7 linked regions of the Homo sapiens genome follow. The protein of the gene in region 1 purifies or fractionates together with the protein of each later gene. This does not show direct contact. Each region holds a gene or a part of one and is shown in the gene's direction. Other genes may lie near its edges. The genes, in order: ACVRL1, TSC22D1, TALDO1, TGFB1, PTPRD, CASP14 and INHBA.

Region 1 (3,179 bases):
GACTTCCAGGAGTCGTGACAGGTTGGGGACAATCCTCAGGATATGGCTGGAGCCCTGCTTCTTGGGGACAAGGATGTCCTCATTTCCTGAGCATCTACCAGGAGCCAGCCCCATGCCAGACTTCATTTGTCCTCGGTGGTCATCAACTGAAAACAGAGGCTGTGGTGTCACCGGTCCCTTGGGGAGACTCACGAGGTGCTTAGATTCCTCAAGACTCCGGGCATGAATTGCCAGAGTGGGCTCTAAGGAGACCGGGATCGGGGGAAAGAGGAACCTGGAAGAAGCCAAGGCTCCTTGGACCAGGCTGCAGGGCAGAAAGGAAAGGCTGGGAGGAGGCTGCCTGGGGTGGAGGGGGAAGCTCCATCAGCCCCACACGGACTCGCGGCGCATTATAAACACTGTAATCTGGTGTCAGCCCCGGCACTGATTAAAGGCCCATTAGACACATTCAGGCCTCTGTGCAGCACTGATTAGGGCGTGAGCGGCACAGGGGCCGGCCTGGAAGCTGGCCATGGGGAGAACAGCTGGCGAAGGCTCTATCGAGGTTGCGGCCTGTGTGGCCATGGCCCCCAGCCTCAGGCTGGGAAACAGGATGGGGCACGGGGCTGTCTGCGGCTCCACCGGCATTGTTTTCAGAAAGCTCCTACTAAAAACTGTGAACTTGGGATACCAAGAGGAGGGGGTCAGTGCTGGCTGCAGGAGTCAGCAGAGGCCTGTGCCATCCCTGACACTGGGTGATGTTATGTGGACCTGGGTAAAAAGATAAGTGCAGCTCAGAGGTCAAGAGCACATGCTTTGGTGTTAGACTGTGGGCTTAAATCCTAGCCCTGTCACTTACTATCTGTTGATCTTAGACAAGTTTCTTAAACTCTCTGGCCTTCATTTCTTGGCTTATAAAGTGGAGCTCATAGTATTACCTACCTCATAGGGCTGCTGTGAGGATTTCATGCAGAGCTCTTAGGACAGCACCTGGCATACAGTGCTCAGTAAACATTTGGTGTTATTATTATCAGGCATGTGTGATAGTTGGGGCCTGGGAGCAGTCCCGGGCACTGGGTGGAAGGCAGCTGAGGGAAGACTGGAACAAGGCTGGCCTAGGAATCCGAGATGGGTTTGAGTCTTGCCTCTGCCATTACTAGCTGTGGAACCTTGGGCCCCCCTTCTCTGAGCATCAGTTTCTTCATCTGTAAAATGGAGGTAATACTAGTACCCACCCCACAGGGCTGTTGTGAGGACAAACAGGATAAAGCATGTAAAGTGTTTACAGCAGAATATCTGGCACATGCCATGTGCAAAACAAATGGCAGTCATTAACATTAGTTAGAAACACATTTATTGCATTATACTGTCCCTCTCAGGGGTAGCGTGTCCAGGCCACTGGTTTCTGGCCCTTGGATAGAGGGTAGAAAAGGCTCTCCTCTGGGTGGTATTGGGCCTCCTTAGAGTCCCAAGTGATTGTCCTGTCCATTCTCCATTTCCAGGCATCGTGGAGGACTATAGACCACCCTTCTATGATGTGGTGCCCAATGACCCCAGCTTTGAGGACATGAAGAAGGTGGTGTGTGTGGATCAGCAGACCCCCACCATCCCTAACCGGCTGGCTGCAGACCCGGTGAGGCCTCTGCTGGGACTAGGATGGCGTGGGGTGGTGGCTCATGGCTGGGATTTCTGGGCCCAGGAACTTGTGTCTGAGGCCTCTGCTTCATCTCATAGATACTGAGTGTCCTGGTTAGGGCACCTCTCTAGGTACTCCCTCTTTCAACCCTGGCCCATGCTCCCTGCCCCCAGGGCCATCTGGTCATTCTGGGATTTTAAGAACCTTCACCTTCCCTGTGAAAAGTCAGAGGCTATCTGTGGCTCTGTGTGTGTGTGTGTGTGTGTGTGTGTGTGTGTGTGTGTGTTTGAGAGTCAGGGTTTTGTTTGCTCTTGTCACCCAGGCTGGGGTGCAGTGGCACAGTCATAGCTCACTGTAACCTCAAACTCCTCGGCTCAACTGATCCTACTGCCTCAGCCTCCCCAGTAGCTAGGTGTAGTGCACACCACCACACCTGGCTAATTTTTAAAATTTTTTGTAGAGACAAGGTCTTTTATGTTGCTCAGGCTTATCTCAAACTCTTGGGCTCAAGTGATCCTCCTGCCTCAGCCTCCCAAAGTGTTGGGATTATAGGTGTGAGCCTCCACACCTGACCACTGTGGTATTTTTGTTGCTATTTGTCTTTGTTTGTTGCTGTTTTGTTGTTGTTTGTCCTTGTTTTTTCTCAAAACACTTCACTTGTACAAAGACACACACACGTATATCAACACATACAAGCGTGAATATCCTTCTGAACATACACTCACAGAAATATACACATGCGCATATATGCCAGACTGTTGGCCCCGTGAGGACAAAGAACGTGTCTTTTGCTCACCCTTATGTCCCTATTACCTATCATAGTATCTGGCTCACAATAGGTGCTAATAAATATTTACTGAAAGAATGAATATATTCTATACATGTATACATCTATGTGTACATAGACATACATTTCTGTACAACATATCCGCAAAAAGCCACATGTATGCATTCCTGTACACACACACATACACTCACTTTCAGGAGCCAGAAGTGGGGCCAGCTCATTTCAGGCCCTGGGATGGGTTGATGAGCTTCCTGGGATGGGTTGATGAGCTTTTTGGGATGGGTTGCTCCCTGGACACTTGCATTTTTAGGGCAGTTCCCACTTCCACAGTCCCCTGGGCCCAGCCATGGCTGATGGAGGGGCTGGAAGACACTGCCCTCTGCACTGGGGTCTTAGGCTGTGGATGGGGATGTGGGAGCCCCCAGGCTTGAAGAATCGGCCCCTTCCTATGGATCTTGGCAAAGGTGGGGATGGGGGTAAGGTGTTTCACAGACACTGCTTGCCCAAGGGGGCTTGAGTGCTCCTGAAGATCTGAGTTCTCTCTTTCTGTCCGCCCTGTCTTTCTCCATCCCTTTCTCACTCTACTCTCTTCCTCTTCCATTTTTTATTTTTTTGTCATCCTCTGTTCTCTCTCTCACCACTTGTCTTTCCTCTCGCTCTCCTTTCCAATGCTCTCATCTCCCTCCTCTCATCCTTTCTCTCCTGCTTATGTCTCCCCATTACCGGCCATCCTCCTCATCTTCTTCCCATCTTCTCTGACCCACCTCCCTCTGCATC
Region 2 (3,500 bases), on another chromosome or scaffold:
TCATGATTTAAAGTTTATATTGTCCCTCATCTTAAGCACAATTGTGAGAGATGCAGGATCATATAATTTATGCAACAAATGGAAAAGAACTGAATAAAAAGACTTGCTTTTTTGTATCTCTCATCAACATTTTTAGGTGAATTGATGTATGTCTGCAAAGTACATTGCCTGTTTTATAGTAGGTCCTCAAATATTTAAGACGCATGTGTGTTACCTATAAAATAGGAGTAATACTCATTTTGCCTGCTTCTCAGGATAGCAGTAGTATCAGTTAAAATACTTTGTTAACTAAAATACGAAATTATAATTTTTAAAGTTTTTTTTTCAAGATGTACATGCACAGTTTAAAGATAGTTTAAATGGTTTTCCAAGAAATAAATGGAAGAGCTTCCTGCACCCTTACTTTCCAGTTTTCCTTTCCTAGAAACAATCACTTTCACCTCTTTTAGATGATTATTGTGGTATTTACCTCCCAGTCTCTAAATAACTTGCTTGTCTTACCACTAGATATGTAATATAGCCTGCTCGTTAGGAGCATGGACTGTGGAGTTAGATTGCCTAGATTTGATCTTTCTTGTCATTTACTAGTTTTATGTAACATCGGGCTATTTATCCTCTTTATGGTTCAATCTTCTCATTAAAAAAATGATGACAATAGTAGTTACCTCATTGGGTTGATATAAGAATTAAATGAATTTGGAAATTCCCTAGAACTTTGTCTAACTCACATGCCCTATGTAGGTATTTGTTAAATAAAATACACCTTTCATTTCTTTTTGTCTGTATTAACTTCCTGGATAGAAAATGAAGATTTAATTTTGTTGTTACCATATACCTACCTGGTCTCCTTTTTTCCCAGTACCCTTCCTCCCAGTAGTTATCAATATTGATTATTCAGTATTCTTGTCAAATATTACTTTTCCTATCCTGTACAGTGTTTTGTGGCTGCTTCCCTGCTCCATCCCCACCTGTCTATTATAGAAATGGGTTTTCCTCCACTCCCAGGTTTTCATCTGTCAGCGCTGTCTGTTTTCTCCAAGTTGCCCCTCCTTTCCCCACCCTCTTCCCATTTTTGTATGTTTTGGGCTCTACCTTTCCTGTAGAACCTTTCCTTAGATGTCTGGTAAGTCTTGATTGTCTGCTTGCAAATAAGTGTTAAAGGATTAAAGAGCTGATTAGAGATTTGCAGTGTGGGGCTGGCCATGGTGGCTCACGCCTATAATTCCAGCACTTTGGGAGGCCAAGGTGAGAGGATTGCTTGAGGCCAGGAGTTTGAGATTAATTTGGGCAATATAGCAAGATCCTGTCTCTACTATATATATATAATTATTTTTAAAAATTCTTTTTCCGTGTGGCTTGTTGACTGTTAACTTTACCGCAGAGTAATCTGGCTGGAGTTCATTGTCTTTTTTTACCTCTTTGCCTAGTTTTCTCTATATTTATCACTAAATCCACTTTTCATCAGATGCCTCTTAGGATGTTCCAATATCAGATATTGTTAACAATTTTATCTTTCTCAGGAAGTGTTATATCCCACTGACCTCCATTCTTGACTGGTTGCCTTCTTGGCTTGGTACACAACTATTATTCTGGGATTCCTTTCACTTTGTCTTGTGTTGGATCTTTATTTTCCAGAGACTAGTGTCTTTATTCTTAGTTTGCTTGTTTTAAAATGGCTTTAGTTTACTCTGACACTTTCTTAGGTAAAGAATACCAGGTGGGGAAGTTATGTTCTCTTATATTTTGTGCCATTGCCTTCTAACATCCATATTGCTTTTGAGAAATCTGAAGCCATTCTGATATCTTATATATTGTATGTGACCTGTGTATTTTGTTTTTCCTTCCCTTCCTTTTCCTTCTTCCTTTTCTTCCTCTCATTTTTAAAACCTCTAAAACCTTTATAAGATTTTATGTTTCCAGTGTTCTGAAGTTTTGCCATGATGGATTTTTGTGTGGGTCTGTTTTCATTCACTGTGCTGAGTACTTGGTGAACCCTTTCAGTTTGGAAACATCTTTTCATTCTGGGACTTTTTCTTGAGTCAGGTTGTTGATTATGTCTTTCTATTTTTTCTCTCTTAAACTCCTCTTATTTGGATAACGGACCTTCTTGACTGGTCTTCTAATTTTCTTGTGTTTTCTCAACTACTTTTCATCTGTTTTTCTTTTTGCTCTATTGAGTTTCCATTTCCCTTATCACATATTTAAATTCCAAGAACTTTTTTTTTGCTCCTTTTTAATAGTATACTATTCTATTTTAATAATGATAGTATTTTTTCTTAGCTATCTGAATATATAAAATGTTAGCTTTTTTAAAAAGTTTTTTTTTTCTTTCTATGTGGTGTTTCCTCTAGGTTTTATTTTCTTACTTTTTATTTGCTTTGGTCTTTATCTTTCATCTTATAGCCTTTCCTCAGATAGTTGGTAGTCATGTGTAAGAGTAAGGAATTAAAATGCTAATTAGAAATTCTGAGCGTGGCTTGTCAATTGTTAGCTTTCCTGTATGGTAACCTGGCTGTGGTGTTTGGTTGGAGGACTTCTAGTGTCGGTTTCTTCTTGTATATCCTCCTAGCTGGTTAGATCCCTATAAGAAGGCTCTTCTGATTTCTTGCTTGGAATTGAAGGCCTTTCTACAAGCATTCTGTGGGGTGGGCAGTGAGGGGGATGTGGAATGAAAGGTTTTGGGGGATCCCCAGATACGTTTCTTCACTCAACCCTGTTTTCAGTATGTTCTGCATTTTGCTGTGCCTGATTTCCTTAGTCCTGTGATCCTATGTTTTACCTTCTTCAGACAATATTCCTTTTTTTTTCTTGGGATTAGGGAGGGACAGTTGGGAATCTGTAGGACTGGTTGCTTCTTAAACTGACTTCTAAACAATCTTTTTAATTTTAGCACCTTCTCCCCCCACATCCCACTTATATAGATGTGGTACTGCCAATTCCTGAGTCTTTTGGGGATTTTGCAGTTTAAATTGGGTTTGTTTTTGGCATTCTCCATTGTTTGCTAAAGCTTTGATTTTCTAGTGTTTGCTAAGTCATTTGTCACTCAACTGTCTGCTTTCCAGCTTTCAAATTTTTTTGCTATTGTCTTTTCATCTGCCTCAGTTTTTGTGGGCTTATGTCTTTGTATCTTAACAAATTGCTTTTCTGTCATTTTAGTGGGGTTTTAGGGAAGGAGTGAAAAAATAGATGTGTGTGTTTAGTATCATTACACATCTATTTCAATGGTAGAATACTGTACTATTAAATGTAATGAATGATGCTAATTTTAATTAAGTCATAGCTCCAAGTTAGTTCTCTAATGAATACATAAATTTTAAGAGTGGAATTACTTAGTTTATATTTGTTAGAAATAAGAATAGTATGTAATTCAGAATTTCAGTTCATAGAAGTGATGAAAAATGTTAGTATTAGATTCAGTTAATGTCTACCATATTTAACCACTCAGTAATCTTGTGAATTAAGTTTTTTTCTATTTTATTGGTGAATAAACTGAAACTTGC
Region 3 (3,500 bases), on another chromosome or scaffold:
TTGGTTACTCTGAAGAAAAAAACTTTTTTATTTTTTTTTGCAACAGAGTCTTGCTCCATTGCCCAGGCTGTAGTGCAGTGGCACAATCTCGGCTCACTGCAACCTCCACCTCCCGGGTCCAAGTGATTTTCCTGCCACAGCCTCCCGAGTAGCTGGGATTATAGGCATGCACCACCACGCCTGGCTAATTTTTATATTTTTAGTAGGGACAGGGTTTCGCCGTGTTAGCCAGGCTGGTCTCGAACTCCTGACCTCAAGTGATCCACCCCCGTTGGCCTCCCAAAGTGCTGGGATTACAGGTGTGAGCCACTGTGCCCAGCCACTGAGTAGCATTTTATGACTGGGTTGATTAAAGCAGAGAATGTCAGCTTTATAAAAGGGACCACCAGTACAATTTGAACAAAAACTTGGGACATTGTCAAAGTTGTCCACTCCGACTAAAAGGATTCTTAGGTCAGGTTTTGTCAAGTTACCTGCAGAAGCTACTGAATGCGATATTTATTTATTTGTTTGCTTATTTATTTATGAAACAGAGTCTCACTCTGTCACCCAGGCTGGAGTGCAGTGGTGCAATCTCAGCTCATTGCAACCTCCACCTCCTGGGTTCAAGCGATTCTCTTGCCTCAGCCTCCTGAGTAGCTGGGATTACGGGCATGTGTCACCACACCCAGCTCATTTTTGTATTTTTAGTAGAGACTGGGTTTCACCATTTTGGCCAGGCTGGTTTCAAACTCCTGACCTCAGGCGATCCACCAGCCTCAGCCTCCCAAAATGCTGGGATTACAGGCATGAGCCACTGCACCCGGCCTGAATTTATTTTTTTAAGAGATAGGGTCTTGCTCTCTGGCCCAGGTGGGAGTGTAGTGGCATGATCATGGCTCACTGCAGTCTCAACCTCCTGGGCTCAAGCGATCCTCCTGCCTCAGCCTCTTGAGTAGCTGACGCTACAGGCATGCACTACCACACCTGGCTAATTTAGTCTTTCTATGAAACCTAAAAAGAATGATTGGTGAGTGATAGCAGTGGATAAAATTAGTCTTAAAGTTGCAGCAGTGCGGTTCAGCAACTATTAGATAAACTGGTTTCAGGTTAGAGGCCGCTTCAGCAACTAGGCTTGCAGGTAATAATTTTTGGAGCAATGCTGTGTGTCCTGAGTGCTTTTCCCCTTGGCCTTTTTTTTTTTTTTTTTTTTTTTTTTTGAGATGGAGTCTCACTCTGTCACCCATGCTGGAGTGCAGTGGCGCGATCTCGGCTCACTGCAAGCTCCGCCTACTGGATTCAAGCCATTCTCCTGCCTCAGCCTCCCGAGTAGCTGGGACTACAGGTGCCGACCACCACACCCAGCTAGTTTTTTGTATTTTTAGTAGAGACGGGGTTTCACCGTGTTAGCCAGGATGGTCTTGATCTCCTGACCTCGTGATCCACCCGCTTCAGCCTCCCAAAGTGCTGGGATTACAGGCGTGGGCCGCCGCGCCCAGCTCCCCTTGGCTTCTTGACTCTGTTGCAGCTGGGTATGGTGATAATGACCCAGTCCATAAGATCAGCGTTCACATGTGGCTCATGACTAGACCGCGCGCCTCCTTGTGGTGGTACGGCAGTGGGATGCACATTTTCCTTTGACCAGCGTTCTCCCAGCTGTCGCACCGCTCACTCCCATGCTGTTACAGGTCACCTCTTGCAGGGGCATATTTGATCGCTGGGCACTTAGTGTTTGTTGTTCCATCATTATGCAAACAGCCGCCTCTTGATGAACCTTCAGTGACCCAGAAGAAGGTGTGAGAAGTGTGGCTGGACCCCGCTTTCGGAAATGCTCTGGACTCCCCTAACGTCCTGGGGAATTACAGGGTTCCTTCACATGTTTCCAGTTGGAAGCAAGTACTCCACTTACTTTGGCTTTTGAAAACTATTTCCCTAGCCATCGACGAGTACAAGCCCCAGGATGCTACCACCAACCCGTCCCTGATCCTGGCCGCAGCACAGATGCCCGCTTACCAGGAGCTGGTGGAGGAGGCGATTGCCTATGGCCGGAAGCTGGGCGGGTGAGTGCCTGGACTCGGGAGGGTCCCAGCTAGGCCCTCGTGCTAGTCTAGTTGGCCTTGCTTCCCTCCCTAACTGAATTTTAGTTCTCAAACACCATGAACTCAAGGGGGGAAAAAAACCCTATCTTTTTGCCTATTTTTGTTTATTGAAGTGTAATCTGCATGAAGTAACCTGCACCTGTGGTAAATGAGCAGTTCAGAGAGTTTTGCCAATGTGTGTACCCTGTAAATACCACCCCAGTCAAGATGCAGAGCACTTGCAGACCCCCACAGGCCCCTCCTCCCCTCCTGTAGTCAGTCTCCCCAGCTCTGGTAACACTTACCTTCTGGCTGTCATTTTATTTTTTACTTTTCAGACGGAGTCTCGCTGTGTCACCCAGGCTGGAGTATAGTGGAGCAATCTTGGCTCACTACAACTTCCGCCTCCCTGGTGCAAGCAATTCTCCTGCCTCAGCTTCCCAATTAGCTGGGCTTACAGGTGTGTGCCACCACTCCTGGCTCATTTTTGTATTTTTTTTTTTTTTTTTTTTGAGACAGAGTTTTGCTTTTGTTGTCCAGGCTGGAGTGCACTGGCACAATCTCGGCTCACCGCAACCTCTGCCTCCCAGATTCAAGCGATTCTCCTGCCTCAGCCTGCCGAGCAGCTGGGATTACAGGCATGCGCCATCACACCTGGCTATAATTTTTGTATTTTTGGTGGAGACAGGGTTTCACCATGTTGGCCAGGCCGGTCTCGAACTTCTTACCTCAAGTGATCCACCTGCCTTGGCCTCCCACAGTGCTCGGATTACAGACGTGAGCCACCGTGCCTGGCTTTTTAATTTTTTAATAGCTTTTATAACTCCCAGAATGTTCTCTGGTACCTGTTTGCAGTAGCTCCCCACTCCCTTACCCAACCAAGCAACTGTAGAGCCCTCTTCATGCCTGTGGCTTTGCATATTTTAGATGTCATTTTAGATTCTCTTCAGGGTAATAATTCAAAGCTTGAAGATGGTGCCGAGCAGGCAACGTGGGCACCACACAGGAGCAGGTCCCTCTCTGGTACTGGCTTTGCTTAGGTCCAGGTGGCTGGTGAGTGGCTCCCCTGACCATGTTGTGACAGCCACTCTGGACACTGAGTCTGACCCTCTCCTCTCTCTTCTTAGCTCCCTTTTCCTCATCTCGTGGTGTTGCACCCCTGTGGCATCAGTGAGGCCTTGGTGCTCCTGTTATTGGGTGACATTGGTGCCTTTGCTTGGCTGGGTGATCAACAGATGAGCCCTGCACCCATGTCCAGATGGCCCCAAATTTTTTTTTTTTTTTTTTTTTGAGATAGAGTTTGGCTCTGTCACCTAGGCTGGAGTGCAGTGTCACAATCTCAGCTCACTGCAGCCTCTACATCCTAGGCTCAAGCCAGCCTCCCACCTCAGCCTCCCAAGTAGCTGGGACTACAGGTGCACGCCACCACACCTGGCTAATATT
Region 4 (3,500 bases), on another chromosome or scaffold:
GTAGACCTTACTTGAATCCTTATTTACACAGGCTTAAAAAAAAAAGATATTTATGAGACAGTTGGGTAAATGTGAACTCTGTCTAGATATTCCTCTAGATATCAAGGAATTGTTAATTTTCTTACATGGTATTGTGACTGTGTTTTAAAGTAGTCTTAATTAGAGATACATTTGAAATATTTATGGATGAAGCAACACGGTGGATTGCATGTGCTTTGAGATAAACCATTGTCGGCTGGCTGCAGTGGCTCACAGCTATAATCCCACCACTTTGGGAGGCCAAGGCAGGAGGATTGCTTGAGCCTAAGAGTTGGAGACCAGCCTGGGCAATATGGTGAAACCCCATCTCCCAAAAAAAAAAATATGAAAAGTAGCTGGGCCTGGTGGTGTGTACCTTTTGTCCCAGCTACTCAGGAGGCTGAGGTGGGAGGTTGGCTTGAGCCCCAGGAGCTGGAGGCCACAGTGAGCTGTGATTGCACCACTGCACTCCAGCCTGGGTGACAGAGTGAGATCCTGTCTCAAAAAAAAAAAAAAAAGAGATAGTGGATAGGGGTAGAGATGCAATGGAAATTGGCCATGAGTTGGTCATTGTTGAAGCTGCTTTTGTGTACATCTGAAACTTTCCAGCTGGACGCGGTGGCTCACACCTGTAATCCCAGCACTTTGGAAGGCTGAGGCGGGTGGATCACATGAGGTCAGGAGTTCGAGACCAGCCTGTCCAACATGGTGAAACCCTGTCTCTACTAAAAATACAGAAAAATTAGCTGGGTATGGTGGTGTGTGCCTGTAATCCCAGCTACTTGGGAGGCTGAGCCAGGAGAATTGCTTGAACTTGGGACATGGAGGTTGCAGTGAGCCAAGATTGCACCACTGCACTCCAGCCTGGGGCAACAGAGCAAGACTCCATCTCAAAAAAAAAAAAAAAAAACTTTCATAGGAAAATTTGTTCTTAAGGCAGCTCGAACACTACCTCCTTCCTAACCCCTTTCTCCAACATCCAAGATGGATGTGAGGCCTCTGGGCTCCCCTGGGGCCCTAAGTAGATCTTTGACTCAACAAACAGTCTCTGTTGGGTCTTTTATTTATAAAAAGTTTTGTAGCGACAGGGTCTCACTATGCTCCCCAGGCTGGTCTTAAACTCCTTGGGCTCAAGCGATTCACCGGTCTTGGCTTCCCAAAGTGCTGAGATTACAGGCGTGAGTCACTGCACCTGGCCTAGGTCTTGAGAGACTGGACGGAAGAGGCTTGGCAAGGGCAAGGGCTGTGGGTATCCCAAGGCCCGGTGCAGGGTAGGCCCCGAATGTGTGCTGAAAAAATGAGTCAGAGGATCACCTAGACGGCTTGTTCAACACGGACTGTTGTTCCCAGTCCTGCACACAATTTCTGATTTCAGTGGCCTGGGGTGCCACCTGAGAATCTGCATTTCCCATAGTTCCCAGGTGATGCTGCCGCTGGTCCTGGGAGCTCACGTGGAGAGCTGCTGACTTGGATAACAGTATCACAGATTGTTCAAATCCTAGGATCTCAGAACCCCAGCTAGGGTTGAACTGCATATTAAAGATGATTCTGAGCCGGGTGCGGTGGCTCATGCCTGTAATCCCAGCACTTTGGGAGGCCGAGGTGGGTGGGTCACCTGAGGTCAGGAGTTTGAGACCAGCCTGACCAACATGGTGAAACCCAGCCTCTACTAAAAATACAAAAAATTAGCCAGGCATGGTGGCACATGCCTGTAATCCCAGGTACTTGAGAGGCTGAGGCAGGAGAATTGCTTGAACCCGGGAGACGGAGGTTGCAGTGAGCTGAGATCACACCATCGCACTCCAGCCTGGGCAACAGGAGGGAAACTCCATCTCAAAAAAAAAAAAAGATTCCGGACACTAGTTCTTCCCCTTTTGTGAGTTCAGAACTTCCTGTGAGAAAGTGAAAGCCAGGACTCTTTTTCCCAGAAATACATGCATACATACACACATGTGCATATGATCTCAGGCACTCATGGCCCTCCCTAAGCCTGCCCATGATGGCCCCTTGGCCCTCAGCTTAACACCTTATTTTATCTAGTAGCTCCTACCTCTGAACAGATGAGGAAACTGAGGTCCAACCAAATTGGGTGGTACGGGCTGAGTTCACAGGGATCTCAGTTTCTTGACTTCCTTCTCAGGCTTCTGTGGCTCTTGGAAAGGCTTTATCTTGCCTCTAGGTTATCCGGTGCCACTTGAAGTTGGGTTCAAGCGATTCTCCTGCCTCAGACTCCCCAGTAGCTGGGATTACAGGTGCCCGCCACCAGGTCCAGCTAATTTTTGAATTTTTAGTAAAGACAGGGTCCTCAAGTCTGCCTGCCCTAGCCTCCCAAAGTGCCGGGATGACAGGCGTGAGCCACCGTGCCTGGCTGGCCCCACCAATCTATGAGCAGAGGTTGCAGTGAGCCAAGATTGCACCACTGCACTCCAGCCTGGGTGACGGAGCAAGACTCTGTCTCAAAAAAAAAAAAAAAAAAAAAAGGCATTGTCAACTTTTTCTTTTCTTTTCTTTCTTTTTTCTTTTCTTTTCAAGACAGAGTCTCACCCTGTTGCCCTGGGTGGAGTGCAGTGGCACGATCTTGGCTCACTGCAACCTCTGCTTCTTGGGTTCAAGCAGATTCTTGTGCCTCAGCCTCCTGAGTAGCTGGGATTACAGACAAGCACCGCCACACCCAGCTAATTTTTGTATTTTTAGTAGAGACGGGGTTTCGCCATGTTGGTCAGGCTGGTCTCAATCTCCTGATCTCAGGTGATCCACCCGCCTTGGCCTCCCAAAGTGCTGGGATTACAGGCGTGAGCCACTGCACCCGGCCTCTTTGACAGTTCTAAGAAGTAAAATAAACCAGAAGAAGGCAGGCAGAGAGTAATAGATATTGGGAACTGTTATTTTTCCTATTCTGATTTAAATTCCTTTATTATGGAAAATTTCAAATGTATACAAAAGCAATGAAGATAATGAATGCCCGTAAACTCTCATCCAGCGTCATCGGTAATTAAGATTTTGCCCCATTTCAAATGCAGACATTTTTATATTTTCTTGCATAACTGCAATACCGTATTGCACTAAATGGAACTAACAGTCACTTGGATATTTTGGAAAGGATGGCTCAGAAAGGTATCTCTGAGGAGGTGATGTTCAGTCATGTAACTGATATTTACTAGTACCTACTGCATTCCAGACACTGCTTTAGGAGTTAAGGGTCCCTGAGTGAAGGACATTTGAGCTAAGGTTTAAATGAAGTGAAGGGGCCAGGTGTGGTGGCTCATGCCAGTAATCCCAATGCTTTGGGAGGCCGAGGCGTGCGGATCGTTTGAGCCCAAGTTCGACACCAGCCTCAGCAACATAGTGAGACCGTGTCTCTAAAAAGAATAACAAATTAAAAAGAATAAATAGGCCAGATGCAGTGGCTCAGGTCTGTAATACCAGCACTTTGGGAGGCTGAGGTGGGCGGATCACAAGGTCAGGAGTTCGAGACCAGCCTG
Region 5 (3,500 bases), on another chromosome or scaffold:
ATTTATATATGCCTGTCAGCTACACCCTCCAGTAAATGAATCCATCTATTTTCTACAGCCCGTGCCCAAGTGTTACACATGCTGTTTAATTAGGATCCAAAAATGCAGGGATTTTTCAGATTATTCACTGTTTCCCTCATTATCTGAACTTCCCATTGCTTTCCTCCTTAAGTGCACAAGAGCTATGAATTAATTTTCTTTCTTGCTACCGTGAAGATTCTGGAGTTATCTTAAAACAATGAAGACAACAGAGAGAAACTCAAAACCTTTCTAATGTGGTTTTAGTTGCTGATCATGTAAAAATGGTAGCTAAGTTCAGAGATCAATGGCTCTTAACCATTTTTTTTTAAGATTAGAGACCCCTGTGAGAATCTGTTGAAAGTTCTAAGTCTCAAGAAATAAGAAAACAACATAGTATTTACTTCATGTGTACGTACACTTACAGGATAGTCATAAACCCTCCTGAAGACTAAGTGAAAATCACGTATATACCCTGTTATACCATCTCTTTTCTCATAATAAAACCAGTGTAAACATTTGACTAGTTATAGGCAAATACATTTAGGTTATGGGCATCGCATATGTATTTTAAGTAACTGCAAAATGTGAACAGTGTGATAGAAAAGTTGAAGATGCCAAATTCACTTCACCTTATTCTGAATTATTTCATACTTTAAAAATATTAAGTAGGCAGGTTGTAAATTTCAGAATCTCCATGAATATTATAAACCTATATGTTATTTACCCTTTCTTTTCATTTGTTATGTTTCCTTGGTCTTTCTAAAATGGTATAAATCCCCATTGAAAAGACCTTTTATTAGACTTACTCCTAATTACTTCATCCTCATTATCACATGCTGTTACAACTCAGTATCCCAAGAGTAATCATTTGATGAATGTGATACCATGTTTTCCTGAATATGGCTATAAAGAGATACGGAGTGTGGAAGCTGGTAGAAGTATGTCCACACCCAAGCAAATGTGGCCAAGACTGTGAACATCTCACCCAGTAACATCGCCTTTGTTATTGTGGCAGCGCGGGCGTTGGAAGAACTGGAGTCTTCATAACGCTAAGCATTGTTTTGGAAAGAATGAGATATGAAGGAGTTGTAGATATCTTCCAGACTGTCAAAATGTTAAGAACACAACGACCAGCTATGGTACAGACAGAGGTGAGAAAATCCATTGCATTTTTCGCATCTCAAGAGCCTACGTTTTGCTAGCCTGGACCTCCCGGACTCCATACTCTCTCAACACCAGACACAAAATACTGTGGGGAAAGCATCAAACTGTTTAATAATTTTGAACCTCATTTTCCCCCTTTTTAAATGGGATGAGATTATTAGTGTCTTAGTGTTGCTATAGAAATTATGTGAGATTATATGTTAGATTGAGCTATGTTAAATTTTACTACTGGACCATTTTTGACCAATAAAATGGCAATTTCATAAAATTCGTTATATTCATAGTCCTATAATATAAATATATAAATATATAGAAAGCATAATATTTAGTACATAATATAATCTCAGCCCATTTAACTTCTCCATTCTCCCTCTGTATGCCTACAGAGGTATCAGCTCTTCTATATTTCATGTCTTAACAATGGCCATTCAAAACATTTTGATTCTGGATAAGCCTAGAGATATTAATATTAGCCCCTCATTTCCTATTCCAATAATTAATATGGAAATTTGGATATTTCTCGTAATAATAAGAGTTTATGATATAGCCAGTCTGGTCTATTGAGCATTCATTTCTAAAGATAATATTACTGATAGAGTTTATGTTCTGCAAAAGGCCACCAAATTATACAACTTATATGTGTTCCTCAATTCATCATCCACAGTATCTTTCAGACGGATTTCAAAGTAGTGCAAGTGTTTGGCTTGCAATAGTCAAAACATTATGCCAGCTTGACAAACTTAATGGGTCTTAGGGGTTACAGAGGGAAATTGGACATTTAAAAAGCCTTAACACTCAGCCAAGCAACTTACTGTGACAAGATAGGAAAGTAAACACCATTTATTTTGCATTACCAACCATTTTTATTACAGAAAAATGCACATTTAAGCAAAATAGAAACTATCTGTCTACTTTCAGCCCGATTGGCCACTGAAAATAGGTTTCTTTTATGGGGAAAATCCTTTTCCTCATCCCTATAGAGAGCTGTAAATTGTGATTTTTCCATCTCTCCAACAATGCTTCAATTTATTCCAATATGATAGTGTTCTTCGTTGTCTGAAAAAGGCCATGCTTCATACTGCTTTTTTTTAGTGTGTGCCTCTCTAAAACAGACAACTAGCAATCACACAGAATTGGGCTGAATTTACAGGTATTTTTTGATGTGGGCAGCCAGTCCTGTGAAGCCATTTTCAGGGATGGAAAGCTTGGAAGTCCAGTGCCCTGTGTAAATGGATTTGTGTGCCTGGTGTGCCGCACCAGCTACCTTCTGGCTGTATATGAACATCATATGTAAGTGAGAGAGACAGCCAAAGGGTAGCTGAAATGACTGTGAGTGATTCTCACTGCAAGCTCTACTGTCCAAACATAATTTTTTAAAAATTCAAATTCTGTTGGCAGTAGTTCAGAAGATAAGTAAATTCAGATTTTTCTCAGGACAGTTTGTGTCTGTATCAGCCTCTCTTAAATATTTAAACTGAGAATTAGTTATCTTGAATAAGCAGATAATTGTAAAGGATGATTTTCATCATTATCTGCTTATAAGGCATGTAAGAAGTTTATGTGTTCAATTGGTGGTAATGGTTTGATACTACTTGGAAAACACTTGTCTGGGAAGGTAATGTTCACTCGACCTGCCACTGCTTGGAATTGGGAGATCGTTTTAGTCAAATTGATTGGCAAAGTTAATCAACACCCCATGTGGCTTTTTCTTTGTTCACTATAAACAATTGGTCATTGGATTAGACCAGTTGACGAAAGTAGTGATTTTGCCCCTATATAGATGTTATTTTGTTATGCAATATTGATTTTTATTTTTCTATTAAAATATGCTCATGGTCCCTTCTTTTGCTTCTCCCCATTCATTGTCTCCTGCAGGATCAATATCAGTTTTCCTATCGTGCCGCACTAGAGTACCTGGGCAGCTTTGACCACTATGCAACGTAGAAACCCCTGACCCATTCTGGATTTTTACTACAGGCCCTTCAATATCCATGGAGTCTCTTCTGAGCCATACAGGGCACTTGAGAAGTCCTTCTTAACTTCTAGCTAACAACTACTTAGTGGGACTATTACACACAAAACAAATTAAAAACAAATTATTCCAGGTGGACCAAGAATTCACAGTTTAATAATCTAACCTGAAAAATAATGAAGAGAATCCTGACTGATGAGGCATCTGAAGGATTTTATTTACAGATACCTCAAGGATTCAAAATCAAGGGAAGAAGAAATCACAGCAAAGAACCACCATCTTATTCAGGATTGCTTGAAAGGTGCAAGGAGAAATTGCCAGAATGCTGCAGTTCAGCACAAGA
Region 6 (3,971 bases), on another chromosome or scaffold:
CACATAGGTGCAGTTGAAGGGTCAGTGATCTCCACTGGCTTAAACTAAACAAGAGCTGCCTCCTACCTAGTTCCTGAAAAACAACTTTAAGCACCCATTACTATAGTGTCCCACAGACAAAAATGTTATCTGTAAGGAAGCCAGTGGGAGTTTAGTTATGCATTATTTGGCTACGTGACTTGCTAGTGGCGCTTTTAAGATCAACTATAAGTAAGCAATTAAAAGTAAGTAAGCAATTAAACGCAAGGCAGATTAAGTCTGGAGGGCTTAATCAGGTTCGCCTTTGGTTTCACTATTAACATAAGAAATAAAATGAAACAAAATGGCTGAAAAATAATAAGAGGAGGAGGAAGAGAGGAATCATCATGATGCATCAGTTAAGGCAACTGGGCTGGAACATTTTAGGGGTTGTTTGTTTGTTTTTATATTTAAGACAGAGTCTTGCTCTGTCACCCAGGCTGGAGTGCAGAGGCACAATCTTAGCTCGCTGCAGCCTCAAACTCCTAGGCTCAAGCCAGCCTCCTACCTCAGCCTCCTGAGTAGCTAGGACTATAGGTATATGCCATCATTTTTATTATTATTATTATTTTAGTGACAGGGTCTCACTATGCCCCGGCTGGTCTCAAACTCCTCACCTCAAGCGATCCTCCTGCCTTGGCCTCCCAAAGCGCTGGGACTACAGACGTGACCCACCACACCTCACCCCTTATAGGGTTGAATGCCAACTGTGCCAATTGCTGACCTTGGGCAGTCATTTCACCTCTATGAGCCTCAGTTTCTCCATCTGCAAAATGGGAGCAAAAATACTGATCTGTCTAGACTCTTGAAGACTCGATGAGATAATAACTAAGTGAAGTCGGTGTTATCTACACAGTGGAAGGTGAGATGAATAAACTAGGCATAATGATGATGGTAATAACCAGATGGGCTGGCTATGGGATGGGGGTTGGGAGAGGTTGTGGCTGGGCTGGCACAGACATCTGACTCATTTAGACTCTCTGCCTAGGCCACCTTTGCCAGAGGGAGTCCCCTCAGCCTTGCGATCACTCATCCCATTGGCGTTGGCTCCATTTCCACACCACAGCTGTGTGCCAAGGGTGTGTCATGAGGTTTCTTGAGTGACAGAAAACTCACCGACAATAAAGGGCCAGGTGATTGTGCCACCCGATTCATAGACCAGGCTTCTCAGGAGAAACCCCGGGAGATTCCACACTGTCAGCCCCTTCTCCAAGATCAGTACGTGGGCCTGACTCCTCCTCGGTGCCCAGCTCAGTATTGGCAACTAGGAGAGTAGTGAGATTGAACTTGGCCTTGAGGAACAGCTGCCTCTAGAGTTGGTAAGTGATTTGGTGGATATTAGCCTCTCTCTCTCTCTCTCTCTCTCTCTCTCACACACACACACACACACACACACACACACACACGCACATACACACATACGCTCCCTCTCCCTTCATGAATTAATGCTCTGGCCAGTTTTGGCAGAATGGAAGAAATTTCCATCCATCCCCTCTTTCTTTTCATCTGTTCATTTTTTTCTTATTTGTTTACTCAGCAAATTCTCTCCAACACCACCTCTGTGCTCCCTGCCACACTGTTGGCCATGATGGAGACAGAGATAATGAAGTCAGGCTTTCAGTCCTGAAAACTGAGCTGCCAGTTCAGCCATGAGAGTAAGAATCAAAAACACTGCTGTAATTCAAGTAGGAGCAAGCAGAGCTGTGAGAGTCCAGAGAAGGAAGAGGAAAGTTCCAGGAGGTCAAGAGGGATCCTAAAACCTACCTGGGTCACCATTGCTGTTAAGCACCTAGAGCTCTCCCCAGGTCCTTTGCGGATGGGAAAATCGAGTCTCAGAGAGGAGAGTGAGATGCCGAAGGTCACACAGCTGGGAAGGGACTGAGGCAGGATTCGGTTCTGGCTCCAGGGCTATGCTCCTTCCACTTCCTCCCTCACAATCTTTGGCTCCTCTTTCGTCACAGCACTTGCTGTGTGTGTGTGTGAGTGTGTGTGTGTGAGAGAGAGAGAGAGAGAGAGAGATTTAATATTCATTTCTGTCACAGACTAGAGCTACAGAAGGACAGAAAGTCAGGGAGCATGTCTGTCTTACTTAATGGATTCTAAGTGCATAACACATAATAGATACCCAGAAAATATTTGCTGGGTAGGTGGGTGGGTGGGTGGATGGATTGATGGATGGATGGATGGATGGGTGGGTGGGTAGATGGATAAGTAAATAGGTGGATGGATAGATGGAAGATAGAGATGATGGATGAAGGAATGGATAGAAGGAGGGCTAGATGGAGGGATAGTTGGAAGATAGAATAGATGGAGGGATGGAAGACAGAGAGAGATAATGGATGAATGGATGGATGGATGGATGAATGAATGAGTGGTTGGATGAATAAGTGGATGGATAGATAGATGGATGGGTAGATAAATGGGTTGATGGAAGAATGAATGGGTATATGGGATGACTGATTAATAGATGGGTAGACAGACGGATGAATAGATGTGTGAGTGGGTGGATGGATGGATGGATGAGTGGATAGATAGGTAAGTGGAAAGATAAATTGGTGGATGGGTTGATGAATAAAAGGATGGATGTTAAATTGGATTGATGGATGACTAGATAGATGTGCGGGTGGAAGGATGGGTGGATGGGATGACTGATTAATAGATAAGTAGATGGACAGATGAATAGATGGAAGGGTGAGTGGGTGAATGGATGGATAGATGATGAATTAATGGATAGATGGTAGATGGATAGATGAATGAATTGATGGGTGACTGGATAGATAGATGGATAAAAACATAGATGAATGGATGGTTGATGGGGGAAGGCATAGCAGATATTATGCCACCAAAATTGTCAGAGAAGGATCTAGATAGAAAAAAAAAAAGCATTCCCGGTGGGGTGCAGTGGCTCACATCTATAATCCCAGCACTTTGGGAGGCTGAGGTGGGCAGATCATGAGGTCAGGAGATCAAGACCATCCTGGCTAACACAGTGAAATCCCGTCTCTACTAAAAATACAATAAAATTAGCCAGGCATGGTGGCGCATACCTGTAGTCCCAGCTACTCGGGAGGCTGAGGCAGGATCATCACTTGAACCCAGGAGGCAGAGGTTGCAGTGAGCCGAGATCATGCCACTGCACCCCAGACAGCCTGGGTGACAGAGTGAGATTCTGTCTCAAAAAAAAAAAAAAAAAAAGCAAAAAGCATTCCCTACTGAGGAGAAAGTGTAGGAAAAGGCAAAGAGATGGGGAAATGCCAAGAGTATGACAAAAGTCTGTCTGTGCAGCCAGAGAAGAGAACAGGACTCAGAGATGAGAATGGAGAATGTGGACAGACATTCAGACTCAAGGAAGAGCAAGGGAGGTGGATTGACCCCTTCGTATTGGAGACCCAGTGAGATAATATCAAAGTTGCATTCCCCACTTCGATGACATTCTCCTTTTAAACACTCCTCCAAGGCATCTCTTTGAGATGGCTTCCCCAGCCCGTCATCTCCTAGGTAGAAGAGGCAAACACATGGGTCACTTGCCCTGCTCCTCATTCCAGGGCTTTCAGGGGAAGTTCAGTCCACCAGAAGCTGGTGAATGACCCACGGGAGACACAGGAAGTTTTTGGGGGCGGAGTGGGGGACATTGTGGGGTAGGCTCAGCAGTTCTGAAGAAGACATCCAGAAATGGAAGACATCGTGAAATTGTCATTCTAGGGGTGATATATTACTACTTCATGGATTATCATCTATTGCCCAGATCTGTCCACAGACCAAATCCCCACCACTTGAGTGCTATTTGGTCTCAAAAATCCAGATACATAAGCCAGTTTGTCCCCTGAGCCCCTCGGCCTCCCTTTAGAGAACTTTAACCTATCTTCTCTTGACTCCAAGGATCAGACAAGGGTGCTGAGAGCCGGGACTCACAACCAAAGGAGAAATGAGCAATCCGCGGTCTTTGGAAGAGG
Region 7 (3,500 bases), on another chromosome or scaffold:
TCCTGCATAGAGGCAGAAGGGAAAACAGCAGGTATCTTGTTAACATTCTCTATGGGGCAAGGCAGATGTGCCCAAGCTGGAGGAAACCTGCACACCCTCCAGGCTAGTTATCCAAGGCTTGGGAGGTTTCCCTCGGCCTTCTCCTAAGGCCTTGGCAGGACCCTGCCACCCTAAAATCAACTGCTGATTGCCTTTTTAGATTTAAATGATTAAGCTCTGCTTATGGGAATCTTCTTCTCTTTTATTTTGTTAAGAAACAAACAACAACAACAAAACCCACACCAATTCTTAGCAAAGGGGAATATCGAATTCAGATTTTGAAAAAATAAGTCATCATGCTTCCTAAAATAAGACAGCTTCTCCCTCTAACTGCTCTCTCTGCTCTGGTATTCTATCTAATCATAAACCCAGCTTTATTATTCATTTCAACTCCTGCCAAAGACATGAGGTCGGAGTCAGAGGAACTCCCCTTACCACCGCCACCATCATCATGGCCAGCATCCTCGTAAGTTTATAGAAAGATGCCAGAGAACCTTTCCTATCCATCTGCAGCCCTGCTTGGCCCTTGCCTCAGTGAATTTACCACTATCATAATCACAGTGTGCAGAGTGTGTTAAATTAAGAACAGAATCCACAGTACGCAATGCACAGAAAAGCCTGCCTTCTGCTGCAGAGAACTTGAAACTGTGCCTAAAATTTATAGTACCGTAAACATCTCAGGGCCTCGAGTGATAAGTATGGCTGGATTTCCGTTAACTATAGAAATCCAGGCAGGGAGATCCTCCCAGGGAGTTGCAAGTTCTAAGATGAACTTCTTGAAGATTGTTCCCAGATTTGTGCATGGGATACATGTACAGCAGACAGTTGTAAGGAGGTCCACGGTCATGGAAAAGAGGATATGTTTCTATATGCCACCAAGTGGGAAAAATGGAAGTGAGGGAAAATATTTGATTAATCAAAAAATTTTAGTTTGGATACCTGCTTTCATAGTAATTGTTGCTGTGTCATTAAACATACAGTTGCTTAGGAAAAGAGAAGGAAATAGGTGACTTTCTAATTTTAGAGTTAGGCTGGAACTGAGTGGTTGCTAAATTCAACTGCCCTGACAATGTGGGGATTTCCTGTCCATTAGCAGCGATTGCTATTTGACATATGTTTCTGGTGCCCATTAATCTGCCCTGTAATGGGTCAGAGGCAAAAATGGGGGATTCAGAGGTACTAGGTGGCTCTCTTAATTTAATAGAACTCAATGCTAAGGACGCCTCTATTTGTTAATAAGTAATCAAGTCATTGGCTACTTTCTGCTAAACACTAGACTATGATAGTGACCTTAGACCCCGGGCATTCTAAACCAGGCTGGCAGGAGGGTGGTGGTGGAGGTGATGTGAGGTAAGCCTCCTAGAGGAACTGTCATCCAAACAATCTGAAAATTGAAACATTATTAAAGGCAGCACTAAGGGTGGTATGTTGGAGTTGGGGCAGGAGCACTTAAGGCAGAAGGAACAGCAGGTGTCACTGCCTGCAGTTGAGAAAGGGGGTGGAATTCTCAAGGCCTTAGACCCCAGAGAACAGGACTGGGCAAGAGCTGACATTCAAGGGAGGAACAGCATGTACAGAGCCCAAAGTCCCAGCCACTTTCTGTTGGATACTGAGCAATAGGAATTCAGTAAAGGACTTTCAAGAAGAAGTGATGTGATCAGATCCACCTGTGGGAAAGATGCCTTTAGCTGCTTCATGGAGAAATGACTGGAGAGGAGGCCTTCCTTAGTGTTGCAGAGGCAAAGTAAAGAAAATGCTGCTGCAGTGACCCAGCAAAGAGGTGATGGCGGAGGAATCAGGCTGTGACAAGGGAAGAAGAGGCTGGCTCAAGTGTGTCTCGACTGCACAGACTTACACAGCGAGGTGGGGCCAGGGGCTGCATTTTTGTCTGAGAATAGTATTTCCTTAGCTTTCTAGAGCTTACAGTGTCTTTTTGTTTATGTTATCTCATTTGACCTTCCTAAACCTGTGAGATAACAGGTCAAATGTCCTTATGTCATTCCCATTTTTATAGAAGATGAAACTGAGGTTGAGCAATTAGTCAACAGACACAGACTCGCAGGCCCTCTTCATTCTAAAGCAAGGGTCCAAAACCTTTTTTCTATAAAGGGCCAGAGAGTAAATAATTTAGGCTTTGTGAGCCAGGCAGTCTGTTGCAGCTACGCAGTCCTTGGTTATTATAGTGCAAAAACAGCCATAGGCAGCATGTACAGAAATGAGCATAACCATGCTCCAACAAAACTTTATTTACAGGCACTAATGTTTAAATTTCAGGTAATTTTCACATGTCACAAAATATCACTTTTCTTTAACCACTTAAAAGTATAAAAGCCATTCTTAGTTTGCAGGCAGTACAGAAACAGTTTCAGCCCATGGGCTGTCATTTGTTGACCCCTATTCAAGAGGGTCTGTCACAGAAGACTCCTGCTTGCCTGAAATTTACGAGTGCATGTAAATGTTGGAATTAACAGGTGTGCCTGTTTTCTCTTATGCTGTCTTTCATCTTCAGGAACAGCCAGGAAGACGCTGCACTTCGAGATTTCCAAGGAAGGCAGTGACCTGTCAGTGGTGGAGCGTGCAGAAGTCTGGCTCTTCCTAAAAGTCCCCAAGGCCAACAGGACCAGGACCAAAGTCACCATCCGCCTCTTCCAGCAGCAGAAGCACCCGCAGGGCAGCTTGGACACAGGGGAAGAGGCCGAGGAAGTGGGCTTAAAGGGGGAGAGGAGTGAACTGTTGCTCTCTGAAAAAGTAGTAGACGCTCGGAAGAGCACCTGGCATGTCTTCCCTGTCTCCAGCAGCATCCAGCGGTTGCTGGACCAGGGCAAGAGCTCCCTGGACGTTCGGATTGCCTGTGAGCAGTGCCAGGAGAGTGGCGCCAGCTTGGTTCTCCTGGGCAAGAAGAAGAAGAAAGAAGAGGAGGGGGAAGGGAAAAAGAAGGGCGGAGGTGAAGGTGGGGCAGGAGCAGATGAGGAAAAGGAGCAGTCGCACAGACCTTTCCTCATGCTGCAGGCCCGGCAGTCTGAAGACCACCCTCATCGCCGGCGTCGGCGGGGCTTGGAGTGTGATGGCAAGGTCAACATCTGCTGTAAGAAACAGTTCTTTGTCAGTTTCAAGGACATCGGCTGGAATGACTGGATCATTGCTCCCTCTGGCTATCATGCCAACTACTGCGAGGGTGAGTGCCCGAGCCATATAGCAGGCACGTCCGGGTCCTCACTGTCCTTCCACTCAACAGTCATCAACCACTACCGCATGCGGGGCCATAGCCCCTTTGCCAACCTCAAATCGTGCTGTGTGCCCACCAAGCTGAGACCCATGTCCATGTTGTACTATGATGATGGTCAAAACATCATCAAAAAGGACATTCAGAACATGATCGTGGAGGAGTGTGGGTGCTCATAGAGTTGCCCAGCCCAGGGGGAAAGGGAGCAAGAGTTGTCCAGAGAAGACAGTGGCAAAAT

The links.
Region 2: the proteins of ACVRL1 (region 1) and TSC22D1 purify together in Homo sapiens (affinity purification with western blotting, with the first as the bait; one study listed by BioGRID). This does not show direct contact.
Region 3: the proteins of ACVRL1 (region 1) and TALDO1 purify together in Homo sapiens (affinity purification with mass spectrometry, with the first as the bait; one large-scale study listed by BioGRID). This does not show direct contact.
Region 4: the proteins of ACVRL1 (region 1) and TGFB1 purify together in Homo sapiens (affinity purification with western blotting, with the first as the bait; 2 studies listed by BioGRID). This does not show direct contact.
Region 5: the proteins of ACVRL1 (region 1) and PTPRD purify together in Homo sapiens (affinity purification with mass spectrometry, with the first as the bait; one large-scale study listed by BioGRID). This does not show direct contact.
Region 6: the proteins of ACVRL1 (region 1) and CASP14 purify together in Homo sapiens (affinity purification with mass spectrometry, with the first as the bait; one large-scale study listed by BioGRID). This does not show direct contact.
Region 7: the proteins of ACVRL1 (region 1) and INHBA purify together in Homo sapiens (affinity purification with western blotting, with the first as the bait; one study listed by BioGRID). This does not show direct contact.

The regions. Positions count from the first base shown.
Region 1 is NC_000012.12:51,917,504-51,920,682, forward strand, and holds part of ACVRL1 (activin receptor type-1-like isoform 1 precursor), read left to right. Parts: intron 1-39; coding exon of another isoform or gene 40-195; intron 196-1,481; coding exon 1,482-1,612; coding exon of another isoform or gene 1,613-1,720; exon of another isoform or gene 1,721-2,484; intron 2,485-3,179. UniProt on the Homo sapiens protein: Type I receptor for TGF-beta family ligands BMP9/GDF2 and BMP10 and important regulator of normal blood vessel development. On ligand binding, forms a receptor complex consisting of two type II and two type I transmembrane serine/threonine kinases.
Region 2 is NC_000013.11:44,566,331-44,569,830, reverse strand, and holds part of TSC22D1 (TSC22 domain family protein 1), read left to right. Parts: intron 1-3,500. UniProt on the Homo sapiens protein: Transcriptional repressor. Acts on the C-type natriuretic peptide (CNP) promoter. Acts to promote CASP3-mediated apoptosis.
Region 3 is NC_000011.10:753,964-757,463, forward strand, and holds part of TALDO1 (transaldolase), read left to right. Parts: intron 1-1,915; coding exon 1,916-2,039; intron 2,040-3,500. UniProt on the Homo sapiens protein: Catalyzes the rate-limiting step of the non-oxidative phase in the pentose phosphate pathway. Catalyzes the reversible conversion of sedheptulose-7-phosphate and D-glyceraldehyde 3-phosphate into erythrose-4-phosphate and beta-D-fructose 6-phosphate.
Region 4 is NC_000019.10:41,333,423-41,336,922, reverse strand, and holds part of TGFB1 (transforming growth factor beta-1 proprotein preproprotein), read left to right. Parts: intron 1-3,500. UniProt on the Homo sapiens protein: Transforming growth factor beta-1 proprotein: Precursor of the Latency-associated peptide (LAP) and Transforming growth factor beta-1 (TGF-beta-1) chains, which constitute the regulatory and active subunit of TGF-beta-1, respectively.
Region 5 is NC_000009.12:8,317,503-8,321,002, reverse strand, and holds part of PTPRD (receptor-type tyrosine-protein phosphatase delta isoform 1 precursor), read left to right. Parts: intron 1-1,036; coding exon 1,037-1,172; intron 1,173-3,060; coding exon 3,061-3,129; 3' UTR 3,130-3,500.
Region 6 is NC_000019.10:15,048,309-15,052,279, forward strand, and holds the start of CASP14 (caspase-14 precursor), read left to right. Parts: upstream 1-1,171; 5' UTR 1,172-1,337; intron 1,338-3,897; 5' UTR 3,898-3,943; coding exon 3,944-3,970; intron 3,971-3,971. UniProt on the Homo sapiens protein: Non-apoptotic caspase involved in epidermal differentiation. Is the predominant caspase in epidermal stratum corneum. Seems to play a role in keratinocyte differentiation and is required for cornification.
Region 7 is NC_000007.14:41,689,591-41,693,090, reverse strand, and holds part of INHBA (inhibin beta A chain preproprotein), read left to right. Parts: intron 1-2,548; coding exon 2,549-3,441; 3' UTR 3,442-3,500. UniProt on the Homo sapiens protein: Inhibins/activins are involved in regulating a number of diverse functions such as hypothalamic and pituitary hormone secretion, gonadal hormone secretion, germ cell development and maturation, erythroid differentiation, insulin secretion, nerve cell survival, embryonic axial development or bone growth, depending on their subunit composition.